2 separate regions of the Homo sapiens genome follow, and region 1 is linked to region 2. The links come from fine-mapping of genetic effects on gene expression. A gene starts in region 2. The other region holds a variant in brackets. All regions are shown on one strand. Distances are between the middles of the regions.

Region 1 (5,370 bases), 32 kb after region 2:
TTTCCAGAGCCGACCGGGCCGGGGATTGGGGGGATTTGGTGGGTAGGGACTGAGGACGAACTATCTCCAACGGAACCTAGTTGGGGTGGTGAGGAGATTCCCTGCCATTCCCAGCTGGTCCTTTGACCAAGCACTGGATTCCTGACCCGGCCTTCCCCTCTCCTAGATCACCCAAAGCCTGGGCTGGCGGTGGGTATGGGGAAGGAGAGGAGAGCCCCTGGGCATCCCCCTAACTCAACAGCAGGAGCTGCTAGAAGAAGCCTCTTAGCATCTCTCTAGTCCTGTCCTGGCCCCCACCCTGCCCATGTGAAGAATTGACCTGTGACAGTTCCAGGCCCCAGTTGCCCCTATCACACCCCCGTCCCTGTCGTGGGAAGGTATCTCCCTGAGCTCTCATAGGGAGAGCAAGAGGGCGCCAGGCGTGGGGCCAGTGAAGGGCACATACCTCCTTCCCCAGACCCACCCCAGCAGATGGGCCATCCGGATGTCAGCTCTGTGGACATTGACTGCTGGTTTTCCTGGGGCCTCGGTTTTCCTCTCTGGCCTGGCATGGACTGCCTCTTGCCTTGGAGTTGCTGGGATGGTGGGGTGTGTGTGTGAGTGAGAGTGTGTTGTTGGGGGGCAGTGCCCTGGAGAGGACTTCATAGCCTCAGAGTAGTGTTGGGAGCGCTGGCTTCCCTGTGTTGACGGTTTAACCCTATAGTGTTAAAAAAAAATCAGGTTGTACAGTAGGATGTTTCTTATGATCCAAAGTTTTAAATGTACGTATTCATTAAAAAGTGAGTATTTTTGAGAGGAGAAGAAAATACCTCAATGTTAATGTTGGGATTCTTGGGAATTTTGATTTTATTCTTTATGCATCTCTGTATTTTCCCAATTTTCTACGGTAGATATTAATTACTTGTTTGGGGAACAGGGGGTTTACATTACAAGTTACATAGTTTATGGGAAGTTTGGGAAATAAACAAGAATCATTCTAAATTCCCCTTCTGGCCAGACATGGTAGGTCTTGCCTGTAATCCCAGTGCTTTGGGAGGCCAAGGCAGGAGGATTGTTTGAGTCCAGGAGTTCTAGACCAGCTTGGGCAACATAGCAAGACCCTGTTTCTCTACAAAAAAAAAAAAAAAAAAAAAAAGAATTTTAAAAATTCCCCCTTCACAGCTTTAACCCAATGCACAGACATGTACAATGTGTTCCTGGCACCCGCACACAAGTGTTCATACACGCATGCACACACACAGGAAGCCCTGGCGCTGCCTGCCTTGCTTTTTTTCCACCCTGGCCCCGGCCCTAGCTCCCTCCTGGAGGACCCTGTGAGGCCCCACTGTGGCTCTGGCCCTCTGCTCATGGCAGCCGGGCCTGGAACCCACCCCAGGCCGGGCTTGGGCTTCCCCAGCTTGGCGGTCAGGTCTCTCCTGGCTGCCCTAGGACTTTGGGAAGCAGCTGCCTGTGCAGGCAAAGCCAAGCTTTTCCTGGCAAGCACTTGGTGTCTGGGCGGAGACCCAGCATAAAGGCCAATGGGCCAGGACTCGGGGGAAGGGGTGCGTGGGCACTGTAGCTCTATCCCTGGGGGCTTTAGGGACTAGAGAGAGGAGCCTGGGCTCTGGCCTAGGAGATCACGGAGCTTGGGTTTCAGTGATAAAGAAACTTTCCTTCATGCAGTGGGGGTTGGGGAGACCCTCATAGAGAAAGGGAGTGGGGTTGGTGGTTTCAGCCAGGGTGGCCCTTTCTGTCCTGCTCGCAAGTTGCCCTGTGGAACCAGGGACTGGAAAAGCTGCTCTCTGGCCAGGGCTTGGCCTCCTTTTGGCTCCTCCAGGGGCTGGCAGGAGTCAGGTGTTAACTGTCTGTGTACTGGGGCCTAGGATGACCCATCAGGATGGTGGAGGGGGGAGGGGCAGCTTGTATGACAGGAGGGTGAGAGTGAAAGAGGAGGGCTGGAGGAGGCAGAACGGGCTTGTTTACTCCTCAGCAAATGTGTATCTGACACCTCAGCATCTTCAGATGTTCAGGGCGGAAGAGCCCTGATTGCTATACTTCCGGAGCTTGTGTCCTAGGGAGCAGTGGGCTTCCATCAAATAACTACTCAAATGCATGAAAAATTGCAGTTGTTGGGGGTACTAGGAACAGATAGGCTCTTCGGAAAGCAGATGAGGCTCTTGGCCTGGTCATGGAGGTCAGCAAAGGCTTCCTGGGGTTCTGGGTGTGGCTTTGGAGAGGGGGATCCTGGCAGCAGGGGCAGCCGGTGGAGGCAGAGTGCACCTCCCCAGGCATAGACCCGGCCAGCCTGCCTCTTTGTTTTATGCACATTGGGAGGGGTTTCGTGGTTGGATTTGTGGTTTGGAAAAATCCCCGTGGCTGCTATGTGTGCTCGC[G/A]CCTGCGTGCATGTGCACCTGTATGTCTTTGCCTGTACTCCCTCTGGACTCCAGACTCCCCAGCGCATTGCCACTTTTCTCAGGTCCAAAGGAATGCAGAGGCACTGGTGCTGTGGCTATGCTGGGGAAGGACGCTCACTGCTCTGAGGGTCCTGGCTCCTGATGGGTCCCATCTGGGGATTGGGGAAGGGCTGGGGGAGTGATTAACATGGGGCCTGCCCCACAGCTCCAGTCTTGGTTCACAGAGAAAAAGGGGGTGCCATGGTGCCTTGCCCATTCTGGTAGGCTGCCCAGCCTCCTTTCTGGCTCTGCCACAGCCCCGTGGCTAATCCAGCCACATCTGACCATCAGGCTGGGGTCATCAGACCTACAGAGGGACTGAATGGGTAGCCCCGGGGACTTTGCTCTCTGGGTTCCTCTTGGCAAGCTGAGGAGCCAGCTGAGTAGTGTGGGGTTTTGATCTACTTGGGATTATGTGTGCCAAGAGGGGATTTTCTGTCCTGCCTCCCATTCCCTTTTGGTAGGGGCTGTCCTCCCTCCTGTCCCACCCTGTGAATGTGGGAGGGAATGGGGCAGGGGCTCTGCCCACATGGGTCTGAGATGCAGAGGGAGCAGACGTGGGCCTGAGCACTGGCCCCTGCCTCGCTGTGCTGTGGGGTGGTTGTGGGCTGGGTAGGGTTGCAGGTCTTGGGGAACCAAACTCCCAGGTCCTGGAAAGCCCCCATTTCCCCCAGCTGTGCAAATTAAGGTGGACCCACCTTCCAGCAGACTCTTCTCCTCCCCAGTGTCTCAGGGGCTTTTCTGTCCCGAGACTGGCTTTCTGGGTGAAGGCCCAGGATGGATCCAAAATATCCCTATAGCTCACCTGCCACCATCTGGCTTCCAGTCCCTGATGGATAAAATCAAGGCCTCATATAAAATTCCGTGTGTATAAAATGAGGTCAATTACAAGGCCCGTCTCACTGGGAGAGAGGAGAGGACAGATAATACCTCAGTGATGATTCTGGTGGGAGACACTGGGGGGCAGACGTGGGGTGGTCACCGTGCCTTTGTGGTTGTAGTCATCAGTCACAGTGGTCTTTAAGGTAGCAAGTACAAGGGTAAAGGGAGAGAGGCAACCCCCTACTGAGCCACCTGGGCCCTGGGGCAAAAGGAAACATTGATAATACTGATACTGTCAACATTTTATTTCAAAGTTTAATAGTTCAGTTATCATGGATTTTTGGCCTTAATTTTTTTTTTTTTTTTTTTTTTTTTTTTTGAGACGGAGTCTCACTCTTGTTGTCCAGTCTGGAGTGCAGTGGCGTGACCTTGGCTCACTGCCACCGCCGCTTCCTGAGTTCAAGTGATTCTCCTGCCTCAGCCTCCTGAGTAGCTGGGATTACAGGACCCCATCAACACGCCCAGCTAATTGTATTTTTAGTGCAGACGGGGTTTTGCCATGTTGGCCAGGCTGGTCTCAAACTCCTGACCTCAGGTGATCTACCCGCCTGAGTTTTTGGTGCCTCCTCATGTGTTACACCTGAGGCAGGTGCCTCGTGCCTTGGGCCGGTCCTGGCTCTGGTCTTTGATAATGATAGAATGATTCTGATGGAGACCCTGTGCCCAGGCCAGCCCCAGGCTCGGGGCTCTATGGCAGCTGCTGGCCTCCAACCTGAGATTATGGGATGATGGCTGAGGTGGGAACCCAGGGCTGTGATACAGGTGGGAGTTTCAAGACGGGTCATCCACCAGGTGGGCCCAGTCCAGGCCCCCACTAATGGCCAGCCTTGTGGGTTGACACAGGGCCACCCCCACCTCCAAAGGGAACCTGCATCTTTGCCCAGATGGCAGGCACTTCCCCAGCCTTTGCCAGCTTTATGGGATGGTGGATCTTGGCTGGGACTCCACCTGGGGAGATGAGCTCAGCCCTGGTAGATGGGAGAGAGGCAGGGAATCCCTGGGCTTGGGATCCTTATTTGTAACACCTCATTCATTTTTTCCTTTTTGTGGGGGGCAGAGTGAGGGGGTCTTGCCCTGTCACCCAGGTCATGTCATGAACACAGTTCACTGCAGCCTTGACTTCCCTGGGGCCAAGTGATCCTCTCTTCTCAGCTTCCCCAGTAGCTGGGACTACAGGCATGCACCACCACATTGGCTAATTTTTGAAATTTTTTGTAGAGTCAAGGTCTCACTGTGTTGCCCAGGCTGGTCTCAAACTCCTGGGCTCAAGTGATCCTCCTGCCTGGGCCTCACAAAGTGTTGGGATTACAGGCATGAACCACCGGGCCTGACCTTCATTTCCCTTTCTAGTCCTGCATTTGCAGTTTGGTTCATCAGCTCATTCATTCCCCCAGCCACTTAGCACCCAGTGCTGTAGAGCTGCTGGGGATGCAGAGCTGCCTCCAGCCAGCCCTGCCCTCAGGGAGCTCACAGTTTAGCCAGAGAAACCAACACAGCAGTTAGACCCAGTCGGAATGACTGTTAAGAAGGGTGGGACAGTGGTTGCTGCAGAATGGGGGCACCCGAGTCTGCCTGAGGGGGTCAGAGAAGGCTCCTGTGGCAGGTGACCCTGTTGTTCAGACCTGGGGATGAGTTGGGCTTTGATGTTCAAGTCCACGGAGGGTCCTCCTCAGAGCCTTTCTTGTTTGGGAAGCTCCCAGGCCCTGAACTGGGTGGAGTCGGGGGGATGAGCTGAGAAAAGAGCCAGGAGATGTGGCAGGAAGGGTGCCCCTGGCAGGAGGCTGCACCAGGAGGCTTGGCTGAATCACACATGGTGGAGGGGGGCAAGATGGGAGGCAGGAGGGATTCCCTATCCAGGGTCCTGGTGTCTGGCTTGCTGCGATGTGGGACCGGAGGCCATCTGGACATCTCTGGGCTGGAGAAGGGTGGATGTGGTGCCCTCTGTGGCCCCCTGCCCTGCCCACCCTGACTTGGGTTCCAGGGACAGCTGGCAGGGGGAGGGCTATCTGCTCTTGGCTCCCCATTAACTGCTCCCTTCTCCTTCCAGATCCTGGGC
Region 2 (5,370 bases):
CTGGGCAGGAGAGCCACAACCGCTTACAAAAAGCATGCAGTTTATACATCACTCTCACTTAGCACCCTCCCCCTAACAACCCCCACCTGATAACCTTCATTTGGCCCCAAACAAAGAGCTTTGAACCCCTGTACACCCTGCATTCCACAGGATGGGCCGGGGTTCAAATGTTCCTCACAGATAAGGAATGAATCTCCAGGTTGGTCATTCCCGGATTCCTTAGCTCAAAACTCCAAACACACATTGGGGTGCATCTGCCATACAGGACCATTCTCAGGGTATGCTTAAGTCAAGTTATTGCTGTCAGGAGCATCTGCCATACACCATCACAAACACCCCCAGCTCGGAGGGAGCGGGGTGTGGAGTAGGGTGGAATAGGAGGAATTTTATGCCCATTTTGCATGGGCTGGGTAGGGTAGGGATCTGAAACCCAGCCCAAGACAGAATGGCACAGTGGTTCTCAAAGTGTGGTCCCCGGACCAGCATCCACATCATCTAGGAGCTTGTTAGGATCTTAACCACTTGCAGGATAGAGGGTGTCTCTCTGCGGGTATGACACACTGCTGGGTTTAAAGGATTCTCCAGCCTCACTTTTCTGACTTGGTGTGGGAATGCTATGAAGGAGACTTTTTGCTGAAAAGAGAACATTTTCTGAGCATGTACGGCATTCAAGCGGTGGGCCAAATACTTTATGAATGCTGTCACATGTAATCTTCAACAGCTACCATCAAGATCGGTATGATTGTTATGGCTCATTTTATTATTATTCCCTGTTTAAGGGCTCATCCCAGAGGTTAAGTATCTTGCCTTGTCCTGGGTTTAAAACGCAACCAGGAAGCTACCTAGGTCTGTGTGATTCTCAGACCACCCTGACTTCTTTACAGTTTGCTCAACAGTGGTTCATGCTTGAATGTGATTCAGAATCACCTGGAGGCCTTATTAAAACCAATTGTCCCACAGTTTTCCATTCAGTAAGTTGGGATGGGGCTTCAAAATACGCACTCCTAACAAGTTCCCAGATGATGTTGCTCCTGGTTCAAGGACCACGCTGTGAGAACTACAGTGCTGGGCTGGGATCCAGCTCCCGCCCTTACTCCACTCGTACAAAGCGCTCATAATCATACCCTCCCACAACGGTGTGTTGTGAGAGGACATTGTGATAATGGAAGTGAAAGAGCTTTGTCAGCTGCACAGGTGAATGCCCCTGGTCATTAACCAGGTAATCTGCCTGAGGCTAGTCCTCTGGAGCCTGGGAGGGCAGAGGGCTGGGACGCAGGGTGGGCACCGCAGCCACCTAGAGAGCTCTTGCAGCCCACCTCAATTTTGGGCCACTTTTTCTTCAGGGAGAAAGCCAGCTTTGAGGGCTTAGGCCCACAGCCCCTCCTGCCACTATTCTCATCAACCCACACCTCCTCCCTCACCTCAGGCAGCTGCTGGGCACTGCCCCAGCACTGGTTGTTCTGGGCTACTTCCCCAGGGGCCAGTCCAGGCAAGCTGGGGCAGCTCAAGCCTGTGACTCAGGACCTGAGGCTGGATCCCGCTCACGCCCGCCTCCATGAGATTCAGAGCCCTCGACTTCCCTTCTCTGAGCCTTAAACTGCGCATTAGTAAAATAGGCGCAACGAGAGTACCCATGAGTTGTGGGAATTCAAGGGCTAGAACTGTATTCAGCGCTTGGCATAGAGCCTGGCCCCTGGCAAGGATTCAATCAATGGTAGTCAGTATTTTCAAAAAGTTCCTGGGCCCAGGCCGCCTCCTGATAGAGGCCCCGACTTAGGACACAAACCGCTCCCACGCCGTTCCCCGGCGGCACCCGGATACACCCGCCCTGGAATGCCAGCGTGGGGGCCCCAGGGCTACCCGCCCGAGATGAGAGGGGCAGGGCAGGGCAGGATTAGGAAGGCGCTGAGCCCAGGCTGGTGCGGGGAGGGGCGTGGCCTCACCCTACTAGGGCCGGGGGATGGGGTGGGCTCGAAGGAGAAAGTGAAGGAGGCGGGGGCGCTGGGAGGGCCCGGGAGGAGACCGGGAGGACGAGGTAGGCGGGAGCTGGGCGGGACCGTTAGGCAGCGCCGTGAGTGGACAGGGCTGGAGCGGGGCGGGCTTAATCCCCAGTGTAACCTGGGGGCGGGGCTGCCGGGATAGAGGAGAGACTCCGTAGCGGGGCGGGGCCTCAGCTCCAGCTGGGCCCGGGGGCGAGGCTGGTTGGGGTACGGCCATAGTGGGCGGGGCCTGGCCGGCGGGAGCGCACCGCCTTCCCAAAGGGCTCGGGGGCGGGGCCGGCGGAGGGGGCGTGTCTTCTGGGGGCGGGGCCTGCCGAGTCCGCGGCGTTCCCCGGCTGCAGCCGGGAGGGGGCCGAGGAGTGACTGAGCCCCGGGCTGTGCAGTCCGACGCCGACTGAGGCACGAGCGGGTGACGCTGGGCCTGCAGCGCGGAGCAGAAAGCAGAACCCGCAGGTGAGCAAGGGGGCAGCGGGCCGGGGTAGCCTGCCGGACAACCATAGGCAAAGTTAGTTTTAGCCCCCGCTTCTGCGGTCCGGCTCGGACAACTTTCCTCGGAACTAGTGACAGGTCGGGGCAGCTGGTGGGTGAAAAGGAGCTTTAGCCACCAGTCCTGAACCCCCAGTTCTCACACTCGGCCGTGCACAGCTGCGTGATCCTGGGTCCGTCCCTCTACCTGGCTCTGGACCTCCCGGGTTCCAGCAGGAGGAAGTGAACCAGGTGAATTCCACGCTCCCGTTGCCCTTTCTCACTTAAAACGCCGGAAGGTGAGAGCTGGCAGGTGAGAGCAGGCTGCAGGTCGCCACAGGTGTTCCCATCGCGTTGCCCTCTGCAGTTTCTCTCCCTGCAAAATGGGACTGAGAGAAGCGAATTGCTTTAAAGAGTGCACTGTTTCCTCGGTTGGGGCTCGAACCCACCAACCCTGGGGAAGAGGAGGCCAAAGCAGGGAGGTTCCATTTCCCGCCTCACCTGCTTCCCACCAATTCTAACAGTTCAACTGAGCCGGACCCCCTAAGACTTCAAGTTGGAAACTCAGTGGGGCTTTTCCAGGTGAGCTGGCCTGAGCAGGAGGTTGGAAACTGGGGAACAGTTCTTACACTGGTGAGTGGGGAAGAGAAGGGAAAACCCCACCAATCCTTGGGCCCAGGGTCAAGCCCAGGGCCCCAGGGGCCCTTGAAGCATACCCGGGGTTAATTTCTTGGCTGACGGGTTCTGTTCCTGGAGGTGGTGGGTGCTCTGTGCTGGGCCCCAGTAGCGGGGCAGCATAGTTCTGTGGTCAAGGCTTGGGCTTTGGGATCAAACTGATTTGGATTCCATTCCCCCTCCAAACTTCAGTTTCCTCACCTGTAAAATGGGGATAATGACAATATCCAATAGCAGGAGCAAGCACTAAATAGAATAATGTGTATACACTACTTAGCAAGGTGCCAGGAAACCAGTGAGACCTCCCTCTGTGACAGCTGCTTTGATGCGGGTGGGCAGGTGATGGGCTTGCTTCCTATGGGGAATGAGCCTTTTTTTTTTCTTGGAGAGATGGGGTTGGCTACAGCCCCTCCTGACCTTGTGAAAGCCAGAAATTGCCACCTGCCACCAACATCACTCTATTTGAGGGATGAGGACTGTGTCATCTGGAACAAAGAGTGGCTGAGTTTTCTGTAATGTTGCTTGAGGTTGGTAAGTGTTGAGTTAAATAAGTCTAAAAATGTTTACTGAGCACCTACTATATGCTAGAGAGAGCTAGAGGATACAGAGGTGAACTAGCCAGGCCTGAGTTGCTGACAATGAGGGCTCCCCCATCCCTACCATGTCCCTGTAGAGAGGATCAGTCACACCCAGGGCTTATAACCAGATGAGATTTCATGGGTCTGTTCTGCCCTGGTGGCTGGAATCCAGCTATACCATTGCACACTTGGCTTGGGATGGGGGCGAGGGGCAATGTGGGCACCCGATATCTAAGCAGGGTTGGACACTGAAGGACGCTGAAGGTGCTGCATTATATTGGCTCCCTGCATCTTCTGGGAGATAAGCTGTACAGTATGGAACAAACTGGAAAGTGCTGTGGGACAGAGACGGACTGGCGGCTGCGCTGTGTGCAGGAGACTGTGTGTGTATGTAGGGCAGGGGGAGGTGTTCAGAAGAGTGAGACACTTGAGAAGCCAGGGCAGGGGGTGGGGGTAAGGAGGCTTCCTGGAGGGGGTGAGACTTGAATAGGACTTTCTCTCTGGGCTCCTGGTCCTGGTTTGGCTTGGATCAACATGGGACCACAGTCTCTTCAAGCACTGAAGTGGCATAAATTGGAGTTTGGTATGGTGGGGAGGGAGAGGGTCTGGTAGGTGGTGCCTGAGGTGGGGAGGAGGAGACGTTCATTTCAACAGAGCCTACCTAGTGAGCCTTAATGGAAAGCCCTCCCCACCACCACCCCCACTTCCTGCTCGATGAATGACAAGCGACCACATAAGGCCTGCACCCTCAGGTTGCTTACCATCCGGGAAGGGGCTTACACAAGAATACCAGGGACTCTGATGGAAGATAAATGAAAAAAGGATTAGAGGGATCTTCAGGGCCTTACAGACTGGGAAGATTTCGGCAGCCAGAATGAAGATAGTGTCTTGAGGAGAGGAAAATGCCTAGGCAGAGGCAGGGAGGTCAACCTGTCCTGAGAATTCTCGAGAAACCTCTAGGTTGCTCATTCTGGCTGAAGTTTGGGAACGTGTGGGGATATGCAGTGGGAATAGTAGGTGGGATCAGCTTACGGAGGGCCTTGAATGACAGGATAAGAACTTTGGATCTGATTTGCAGAAAGTGGGAGCCACTGAAGGTTTCTGAGGAGAGGAGTGACACAACAGAGCAGCACTTTAGGAAAGTCAGTCTGTACCAGATGTGCTGGGGTGGAGGATCCAGCGGTCAAGGGATAATGAACCAATGGCTGCAGTGACTGGGAAGAAGGGGTCTGGGTGGCTTTGGGGATGTCTGCAACTGGGAGTGAAGGAAGAGACACCAGCCACAGGGAGAGCAAAGGCACCATTGGAGGGGTGGGAGGGGACTGTTCCAGCACATTTGCACTTCTTTCTCCTCCCTATCCTGTCTGGTACATAGCAGGGTCTCAGGAAGGTGGCTGGATTGGGTGAGTGGCGGGGTTGCTGGGAGGGTGATGAATGCTACAGAGGGGTTTGCCCATGAAGGGGAGGCATCTGGGCCGAAAGGTGGGAGCCTGTGCCAGCCAGCAGTAAGTTTGGGGGTCGGGGGCGGGATGGTTAGAAGAAGTGCCTGCTGATCCCTCCCTCCCATCCCAGCCCAGGGAGGATAGGGGTGAGAGGTCAGCCATGTGCTATCTCTGGCAGTGGGTGAGCAGTCAGGGCACAAGTTTCCCACA

The links.
Region 1: its variant is fine-mapped to the expression of CD82 in T cells (TOPMed, PIP 0.99).

The regions. Positions count from the first base shown.
Region 1 is chr11:44,594,797-44,600,166 of GRCh38, forward strand. CD82 (CD82 molecule) reads left to right here. Exons shown (of 10, transcript NM_002231.4): 4 at 5,362-5,370. Among named protein-coding and RNA genes, the nearest start is that of CD82-AS1, 7.9 kb to the right of the region's middle. RefSeq lists enhancers at 1,427-2,005, 2,006-2,585, 2,009-2,248, 3,574-4,074, 4,075-4,575. The variant G/A (reference allele first, on the strand shown) is at 2,373.
Region 2 is chr11:44,563,284-44,568,653 of GRCh38, forward strand. CD82 (CD82 molecule) reads left to right here and starts at 2,380. Exons shown (of 10, transcript NM_002231.4): 1 at 2,380-2,453. RefSeq lists a silencer at 1,879-2,478 and enhancers at 2,393-2,893, 3,399-3,468.